2 separate regions of the Homo sapiens genome follow, and region 1 is reported to be linked to region 2. The links are microRNA targets in miRTarBase. Many come from high-throughput screens and were not tested one by one. Region 2 holds a microRNA gene; the other region holds the end of a gene's coding sequence.

Region 1 (4,390 bases), not on the chromosome of region 2:
CTACCCATCCATAATCTTTCAGGCAAAACAGAGGTGAGGATAACGGGTGGTTTTCATTACCAGTAACTATAGTAATATGATGTGCCTTTGAAAGTAATCCATAGCTTTTCTGCACTGGTGGCATGGAATGGGTTGTATTCAGCCCACTGCTAGAGTGGGGACCAAAGTTAAGATCTCATTTATCTCAGACCTGAGGGCTGATTTTTAATAACTATTTTGAGCTTTCCTGCAGGCCTAGGGGAAATGGCTGGGGGATATGGGGGAGAGATGTGCCACTGTAGAGGCCTCAACTCAAGAAGCTTTATTTCCCATGAGAAAGGCAACTAAAATGTTTAAGAAATGAAGGCAGCAAAGATGAGAGACCTTGTGGATACAGCACAAGAAAAGGATTAATTAAATCCTTAATGCTACCACTGGAAGTTCTAAAATAAATACAAAGAAATACTAATGCCTTCCCCATCCCCACTTAATTTCTAAGATATGCTTTGGACTGAAAACAAAGGTTCAAATTTATGGATATATTCATAGATGATAGCATTTATGGAACGGATAGTTCACATTTATCTTTGGCCACTGAGAACATCAAGAATATAACAATTCATTCCCAGAAAATATTTTACAAACCTCCAGAGGCAGAAAATATTAAACATGCGATGCTTGCAATTTTTAAATATTACCATATTTCAGGATGGGAATACATTTTTGCAAGGGTAAGTTATAGGTATTTCCTTGTTTTAAAATTCAAGCAACAGACTTTATTGACATACTTTAATATAGTATTTTAGGGCCTCAAGCAAAGTCAGAGTCTCAGTTGCTCACACTCCCACTAATTCTTTACTGATTTCTACAACTCTAACAGGTACTGAATTCAGAAGGGTAATAGAGTTAAGGTAAAACAGGCAAAAATTGAGACATCCTTTAGTCTCTACAAGGAGAGGCAACTTGAGATATTTAGAGGCCAAGTAGGTAATGCAAGCTGTGCAAGCACAAGAAAAAACAATGGTGCAGGCCCAATGATAAATGTCAAGTGCTACCTGGCCTCTGTGTTGGGGAGACAACACTGAGGGACTTGGCAAACAGAATCTTCCTTATCTAAAGGTGAATCAGATGGTTTTTTTTTTTTTTTGCTTTGTTTTTTTGTTTGTTTGTTGGCTACATAGGTCTATAGGTCAAAGGCTCCCAGATCTTTTACTTTAAAAAAATAATAATAAAAAGGTAAGAATCTAGATTTTTAGCTGCTGTCTCTGTACTGAGATGTTGGTCTCTTAAAATTATAAGCATGAACCAAACAAAATAGATCTGTGGCCTGAAGACAGTCAACATGGGATATCTGATCTAAGCGAACATTTATAATATGTATGGATAAATTTGGAAAACTCTCCCTAATCACACCGTGTACTCAAAATCTTCTTTAAATCCCCTACCTTGCAAAATCAGAATTTCCCCAGAACTCCTTTCTCTAGCTTCCTTAAATGAAGACACACACACACACACACACACACACACACACACACACTCTCACACACATCATCATTTAGTCCTCACAATTTGTAAGGTACATCCAATTGTTCCTATTTTCAGTTTAGGACATGAGCCAGAGAGATTAATTTCCCAGTTACTGAGCTAATAAATAGTAGAACCCAAATTTTAACCAAGTAGTCTGGTTTGTCTGTGGCAACTGCATGTAAAAGAAACACAAATAATTTTACACCCCTAAAAGGGGTGTTAAAATGTTTTCTATCCTCAATAAATACAAGTAAGTATTTACAATTTTCATTGTCTCTCAGCTTACTGCCTATTTTTAAGACTGAAAAACAACCAAGTCAATTGCAGAGCCCAGGTTTTTCTCCCCAAGATGGGCCTTCAGATGGAATAGTGTTTCCCACCCCCACCTCTTTGCCCTACTCAGTCCCAGAGAAAAACAGAATCACAACCTTCTAGTTTGTGGACCTCAGATTTTTTTTTCCAAGAGTTTATCTTTCCTAGTAAAGATAAACTTTCCTGGTAAAGATAAAGATCTGGAGGTAAATACAACCAGCCAGTTTATTGTGCACTAGCATACCCCCACCCACACTAATTTACATCATCCATGCAATTAATTACCTATCCACACTCATCTGACCGTAGCTGCACGCTAATTGAGAAAGCAGTGGAAGAGGCAGTAGGATTAAGTCTAAGCACCAACATTTTACTTCCACCATCTCTCCCTCCTAACCCAGCTAGTGTCTGAGCAATTCTGATCAGCCTTGTCACAGTCCTATCTTTTACAGATCTCTCTCCCCAAAAGACAGGATGACCATAAAATAAATAAGGCTCTGAATTGTCCTGTTGCATTGGATATTCGTTCTTTACTGCTATAATGGAGCAGAAGCATTTGGAACATTTTTACTGATCATGATAAAACCTGCTGATACACTTATTTTGCTGAACCTAGCCTTCTGATGTAATCATTACTCTCCTAGAACTTCAGCATCTTAGTAAGGTAACCACGGCAACATACTCATTGATAGGGCAGGTTTTCCCAGACCAGCAAATTCTTATAGGCAAAAACTTAATTTACAAAGTTTAATTTCCAGAAATTAATTTGTGAATTAGATAGCTGAAGCTGGATCATTTTCCCTTAATACTGGTTAACACATACAATAGAAAGTAGTATACAGAGAAAGTATGTATGCAATACTATTAGCCAAACAAAATACACAGAACAAGAAATTTTATTATCTCCAATGCTGGTGCATGACAAATAACAAGCTTAATTAGAGGAGGAGACAGAGGGAAACTTCAGATACCAAGGTAATTTCTGGGCAGGTTTAAAACCTTTAAAAGTTGATAGAATAACTGTTCATAAAGTCTTTTTAGATATAGCGCTTTTTACTTGACAACTTTTATTAACAGTTCTTACAATATGAAGTTCAACTAAAGTCCTTCATCTGTCAAGTTAAAACAGCAAGCAAAACAAAATTTCTCTAGTATATAACAGCATAAGCAATGGTTTGTTTTCTTTGTACATTCACACACATTTAGTGTCTAGATTTGAAACTTTTTAATTAAGGATGTCTTAATTTTTGACTTTTAAAAATGGTTATGACAATGGATTTTCTTGATTTATAGATCACAGTGGCTTTATAAATGATCAAGATACATGTACAAACAAAATTTCAGATGCTCTTGGAAACACATCTTAAGATACAAAGCACACGTGATACATATTTGAGTTTACTCATCCATTTATCTTACACTGAAAATGTAGCCTTTGATAACTGTGGCTTGACTAGATCACAAAATAGAATTTTCCAAGTTTTCTTAAGCTTTCAGTCCAAATAACTCAAAAGATATGTGTCCTAGTTGGATACATTTTTTTCTCATTATATAATTAGTATCAGTGGGCTTTTGTATTGGCAGTTTGTCTTGGTCATGACTTATTCTTGCAAAACCATCTTTACAGCAAACAAATATGAAAGATATTTTCCCCAATGCAAGGAAAATAATCTGGATCAATAACAAAGTCAAAGCCATAGGTGTTTTAGGACGTTCTTGATAATTGATTTCAACGGTCTTAAAATCTTTTTTCTTTTTCTTTAATGATTCTCTTCCTTTTTCACAACTGTGCAGTCACTGTCCTATTGTGTTCTATTCTGAAAAACAAATTTTTTTGAAGGTCAAGTTTTTCAATGGCACAAAACTATTTGGAATGAACCCAAAAGATAGCGGAAAGTTGGGTCCCTCCTCAAGTAGTTTCCTCCTCTTTTAACAGCATCTAACTACTCTCTATCAATAATCTCATCACAGCCGAGTTCTTCGGTCAGACGATTGACAACCATCAGTGAAAAAAGCTCTTCGATAAAAGCTAACTGATCAAACGGGGTCTTCTCATAATGCATCTGAAACCCGCCATCCAGGGCTGGTTCTCTTGTTCTCAGAAACATCTTGTCGGCTTCTTCAAGAGCGGCTGATACTCTGTAGCCGGCACCACTGAGCTGCTCCTCTTCGGGATAGTCGTAGTCGTCCTCCCAGTCATCAAATTCCTCGCCCTCGTCCTCGCTCTCGAAGTCTGCGCCCGCCACCTGGCCTGGCTGCTCCCCAGCGTTGGGCCCGTTAGCAAGGCTCCGTTTCCCCTCTGGCGCCGCCATTGGCTGGGCCTCCTCCTCCTCCATTGGGCCTTCCTCCTCGAGCTGTTGGGCCCCGCTGCGGGAGGGACGCAGGGATAGCTCCCGGCTCCCGCTGCCTACCTCCATCTGCGGAAGGTCACCCTCGCCAGGCATCACATCCATCTGCAGGTCACTGCTCTCTTCATACAGCTCGGACAACTCAGCCATTTCCGACATTGTGCAAACCGCTCAACCTCTAGGAAAAAGCTTCCAGCAAGACAGATGCTGCGCGGCCGTGCGTT
Region 2 (4,390 bases):
ATGGAAGGTTGTGATTCCCGAGGGTCCAGGTGTCAGGCTGTCTCCTCAGATCTGCTCTCTGGCTAGGGAGGAGACGGAGATCATCGAAGGGGAGGTGGTGGAGATCCAGATTGATCGACCAGCAACAGGGACGGTGAGTCTGTGTGAGTCTGTACCCTGCTGAGGCCACCTCCAGCGCCAGGGTTGGAGAGAGTAGATATCAGGTCTGCACTGAGGTCAGAATCCCATGGAATGTTCTAGCTGCAGACTAGAGCCATGTACATGCCTACAGTAGGAGGTCAGTTAACTTGACAATGGCTTATCCCCTTATGAAGGACATTATGGGCAATAGAAACTGAGGCGGTAAAATAATGAGAGAGATCTGTTAGTGAGTTCCCAACAGACCTCAAAACCCAACAGACTTCAAAACTCGTTCCGTGGCCGAAAGGCATGTCCTGTCCATCTTACATGATACAGGTGATTTGCTCTCTCTTTTTTTTTTGTTTTCGAGACAGAGTCTCCCTCTGTCCCCCAGACTGGAATGCAGTGGTGCAATCTCGGCTCACTGCAACCTCTGCCTCCCAGGTTCAAGTGATTCTTCTGCCTCAGCCTTCCGAGTAGCTGAGATTACAGGTGTGTGCATGCCACCACGCCCGGCTAATTTTTGTACTTTCAGTAGAGACGGGGTTTCACCATGTTGGCCAGGCTGGTCTTGAACTCCTGACCTCGTGATCTGCCCACCTTGGCCTCCCAAAGTGCTGGGATTACAGCCGTGAGCCACCATACCTGGCCTCTTTTTTTTTTTTTTTTTTTTTTTTTACAATTTCTGTTTTCTCCTTTTTGCATAGCTGTGTTTTCTGATTTTGTGATCAACAAAAACACTTTTTATTTGGGTATAAAATAGGAATGTCAAAGTGTGACATTTGGCAATTTTGCGAGACCTCGGGCCTATGTTGTTTTTGATAGACTTTATTTTTTAGGCATGTTGTTTGTTTACTATTTTTATTTTTTATTTTTATTTTATTTTATTATAATTTTTTTTTTGAGATGGAGTCTTGCTCTGTTGCCCAGGCTGGAGTGCAGTGGCACAATCTCAGCTCACGGCAAGCTCTGCCTCCCGGGTTCATGCCATTCTCCTGCCTCAGCCTCCCGAGTAGCTGGGACTACAGGCACCTGCCACCACGCCCGGCTAATTTTTTGTATTTTTAGTAGAGACGGGGTTTCACTGTGGTCTCGATCTCCTGACCTTGTGATCTGCCCGCCTCGGCCTCCCAAAGTGCTGGGATTACAGGTGTGAGCCACTGCACCCTGCCTGTTTACTATTTTTATTAAGAGCTTTATTGAGTTTTGGCCAGGCGCAGTGGCTCACACCTGTAATCCCAGCACTTTGGGAGGCTGAGGTGGGCGATCACTTGAGATCAGGAGTTCGAAACGAGCCTGACTAACATGGTGAAACCCTGTCTATACTAAAAATACAAAATGGCTGGGCGCGGTGGTTCATGCCTATAATCCCAGCACTTTGGGAGGCCGAGGCGGGTGGATCACCTGAAGTCAGGAGTTCAAGACCAGCCTGACCAACATGGTGAAACCCTGTCTCTACTAAAAATACAAAAAATTAGCTGGGCGTGGTGGTGGGTGCTTGTAATCCCAGCTACTTGGGAGGCTAAGGCAGGAGAATCGCTTGAATCTGGGAGGCAGAAGTTGCAGTAAGCCGAGATCACACCATTGCACTCCAGCCTGGGCAACAAGAGCGAAACTCCATCTCAAAAATAAATAAATAATAAAAACACAAAACAATTAGCTGGGTATGGTGGCACACATCTGTAATCCCAGCTACTTGGGAGGCTGAGGCAGGAGAACTACTTGAACCCGGGAGATGGAGGTTGGAGTGAGCTGAGATCACACCACTGCACTCCAGCCTGGGCGACAGAGCAAGACTCTATCTCAAAAAAAAAAAAAAAAAAAAAAAAAAAAAAAAAAAAGAGCTTTATTCACCAGGCGCAGTAGCTCACTCCTGTAATCCCAGCACTTTGGGAGGCCGAGGTGGGCAGATCACAAGGTCAGGAGATCGAGACCATCCTGGCTATCACAGTGAAACCCCATCTCTACTAAAAATACAAAAATTAGCCATGCGTGGTGGCGGGCGCCTGTAGTCCCAGCTACTCGGGAGGCTGAGGCAGGAGAATGGCGTGAACCCGGGAGGCAGAGCTTGCAGTGAGCCGAGATCATGCTACTACACTCCAGCGTGGGCGACAGAGCAAGACTCCGTCTCAAAAAAAAAAAGAACTTTATTGAGTTTTAATTGACATACAGAAAGCTGTACACATTGCAAGTGTCCAGTATGGTCCGTTGGGACATACATGTTCAGCCGCGGAGCCATCACCGCGTCAGGCTGGTGAGCGCACCGTATGTCTTCCCTGGAGAGCTTCCTTGTGTTGTGCCCATTTTGAAGCTGTGGAAGCAGAGGCCAGAGCAGAGCCAGAAGCTTATCAACACTGGGGGCACTGGGGCAACATCAGGGCCCTCTCTGAGCCCCATCCCTGGCTTGTCCCCACTCTCAGGGCTCCAAGGTGGGCAAACTGACCCTCAAGACCACAGAGATGGAGACCATCTACGACCTGGGCACCAAGATGATTGAGTCCCTGACCAAGGACAAGGTCCAGGCCGGGTGAGCAGTCAGGGGCCATGCCAGGCAGCCAGGGGGATGGGCGAGCTTGGGCCCATTCCTTTCCTTACCCTACCCCCCATCCCCCTGTAGGGACGTGATCACCATCGACAAGGCGACGGGCAAGATCTCCAAGCTGGGCCGCTCCTTCACACGCGCCCGCGACTACGACGCTATGGGCTCCCAGGTGCGGCCGGGACTCCCGGGATCCCCTCGCCCCCAGCACTGGGGTGTTTTCATCTCCTCCATCACCCCCTTGACCCATGGGGTCTGGATCTTCCTGTTACCCTGACTGTTTGTCCTGGTACTCCTGGGTCTTCCCTGTAACCCTAGGACAGCAGGGCCCCTCAGCCTGGCACTATAGCTTCGCATGGCCACATGTGGCCTGTGGCTTCTAAGGTCCTCCGGGAGCCCCCGTGACCCTCAGCGCTCTGGAATGTCCCTAGTCCTGACTACCTCCTGGGCCTGGGGTTTCCAGATGACCCCATTTAGCCTCCCAGCTCCATTTCCTGGAGCTCCAGTCTCCCCCAGACAGAGGGCTTTAGGGGCCCCCTTCATGCCCTTCCCTGCCCTGTCTCCGCCGTTCTTCCCCCACCCCCGCCCCATAGACCAAGTTCGTGCAGTGCCCAGATGGGGAGCTCCAGAAACGCAAGGAGGTGGTGCACACCGTGTCCCTGCACGAGATCGACGTCATCAACTCTCGCACCCAGGGCTTCCTGGCGCTCTTCTCAGGTGAGGCCCCTCCTGCCCTGCCCTGCCCTGCCCTGCCCCAGGCCTAGCAGCCTCCCTCGGGCTCCCTCTGTTCCTGAGCTCCGAGTGTGGCCCACCTGCTCCACGCTGTTTCCTGTAACTCCGGCCCGTGGCTGCCTCTGTTCTCCACCTGCAAGTCCGCTCCGTCCCCACCCCTGCTGGTGCTGTGATGGGTGTGGCCCTGCCCTCTCCCCTCCTGTGTTCTCTGCCTCTGTTCCTCCTCTTTGGGGATGTTTCAGGCTCCTCATCCCTCCTTGCTTTGCTCCCCTTCCTCCATCCCTGGCATCATCCTTCTCTGTCTTAGCCACACTCTGGCCCTGGAACCCGCCTCCTCTCTGGCTTCCCTGATGCAACCTGTGCCTCCCATAGGTGACACAGGGGAGATCAAGTCAGAAGTCCGTGAGCAGATCAATGCCAAGGTGGCTGAGTGGCGCGAGGAGGGCAAGGCGGAGATCATCCCTGGAGTGAGGACCCAGGACATGGCCGGGGCGGGTGGTGGGGTGGAGGTGGGCCGGGGAAGTGGGGACGCGGGTGGTGACTCTCACACACACCCCAATCCAAGGTGCTGTTCATCGACGAGGTCCACATGCTGGACATCGAGAGCTTCTCCTTCCTCAACCGGGCCCTGGAGAGTGACATGGCGCCTGTCCTGATCATGGCCACCAACCGTGGCATCACGCGGTGAGCCGGCTACAGGGGCCTCTGGGGAAAACAGGATGCTCTGGGCAGTGGGTGTGGTCAGAGGGTCAATGGGAGCCTGTGTTGACACCGGGTCAGGGAGGGACGCGTGACTGCAGTGTGCGCTCTTTGCTTACAAAAGGCGGGTGGGAGGCAGCTCTGCTTCCCGAGGAAGCCCAGAGACTGTGTTCTTGCTGCCTTTCTGTCTTGCTGCTCCTTTAGCCCCCAAGGCTGCAGTCTTCAAACTGCGTGCCGAGGCACCCCAGGGTGCTGCAGGAAACTCACAGGAGTGCTGTGGGATGTTTTCTAGTCTTGAGG

What was found. Region 2 holds the annotated microRNA hsa-miR-6798-3p (CUACCCCCCAUCCCCCUGUAG, at 2,717-2,737, shown strand). A microRNA usually pairs through its seed, bases 2 to 8, with sites in the 3' UTR of a target mRNA and lowers its output. Matches are read on the target gene's strand: a 7mer-m8 pairs with bases 2 to 8, a 7mer-A1 pairs with bases 2 to 7 and ends in A, and an 8mer does both.
Region 1: the mRNA of EID1 is a reported target of hsa-miR-6798-3p. The part of its 3' UTR that is shown has no 7-base or 8-base seed match.

Annotation. Positions count from the first base shown.
Region 1 is chr15:48,878,112-48,882,501 of GRCh38, reverse strand. EID1 (EP300 interacting inhibitor of differentiation 1) reads right to left here and starts at 4,368. Exons shown (of 1, transcript NM_014335.3): 1 at 2,329-4,368. The coding sequence starts at 4,325. The coding sequence ends at 3,762. All of the region lies in intron 4 of SHC4 (SHC adaptor protein 4), which reads left to right. RefSeq lists an enhancer at 4,114-4,390.
Region 2 is chr19:49,007,236-49,011,625 of GRCh38, forward strand. MIR6798 (microRNA 6798) reads left to right here and starts at 2,671; the gene lies at 2,671-2,737. It overlaps RUVBL2 (RuvB like AAA ATPase 2), which reads left to right. Exons shown (of 15, transcript NM_006666.3): 6 at 67-133; 7 at 2,541-2,647; 8 at 2,738-2,831; 9 at 3,253-3,376; 10 at 3,764-3,858; 11 at 3,957-4,075. RefSeq lists an enhancer at 2,205-2,706.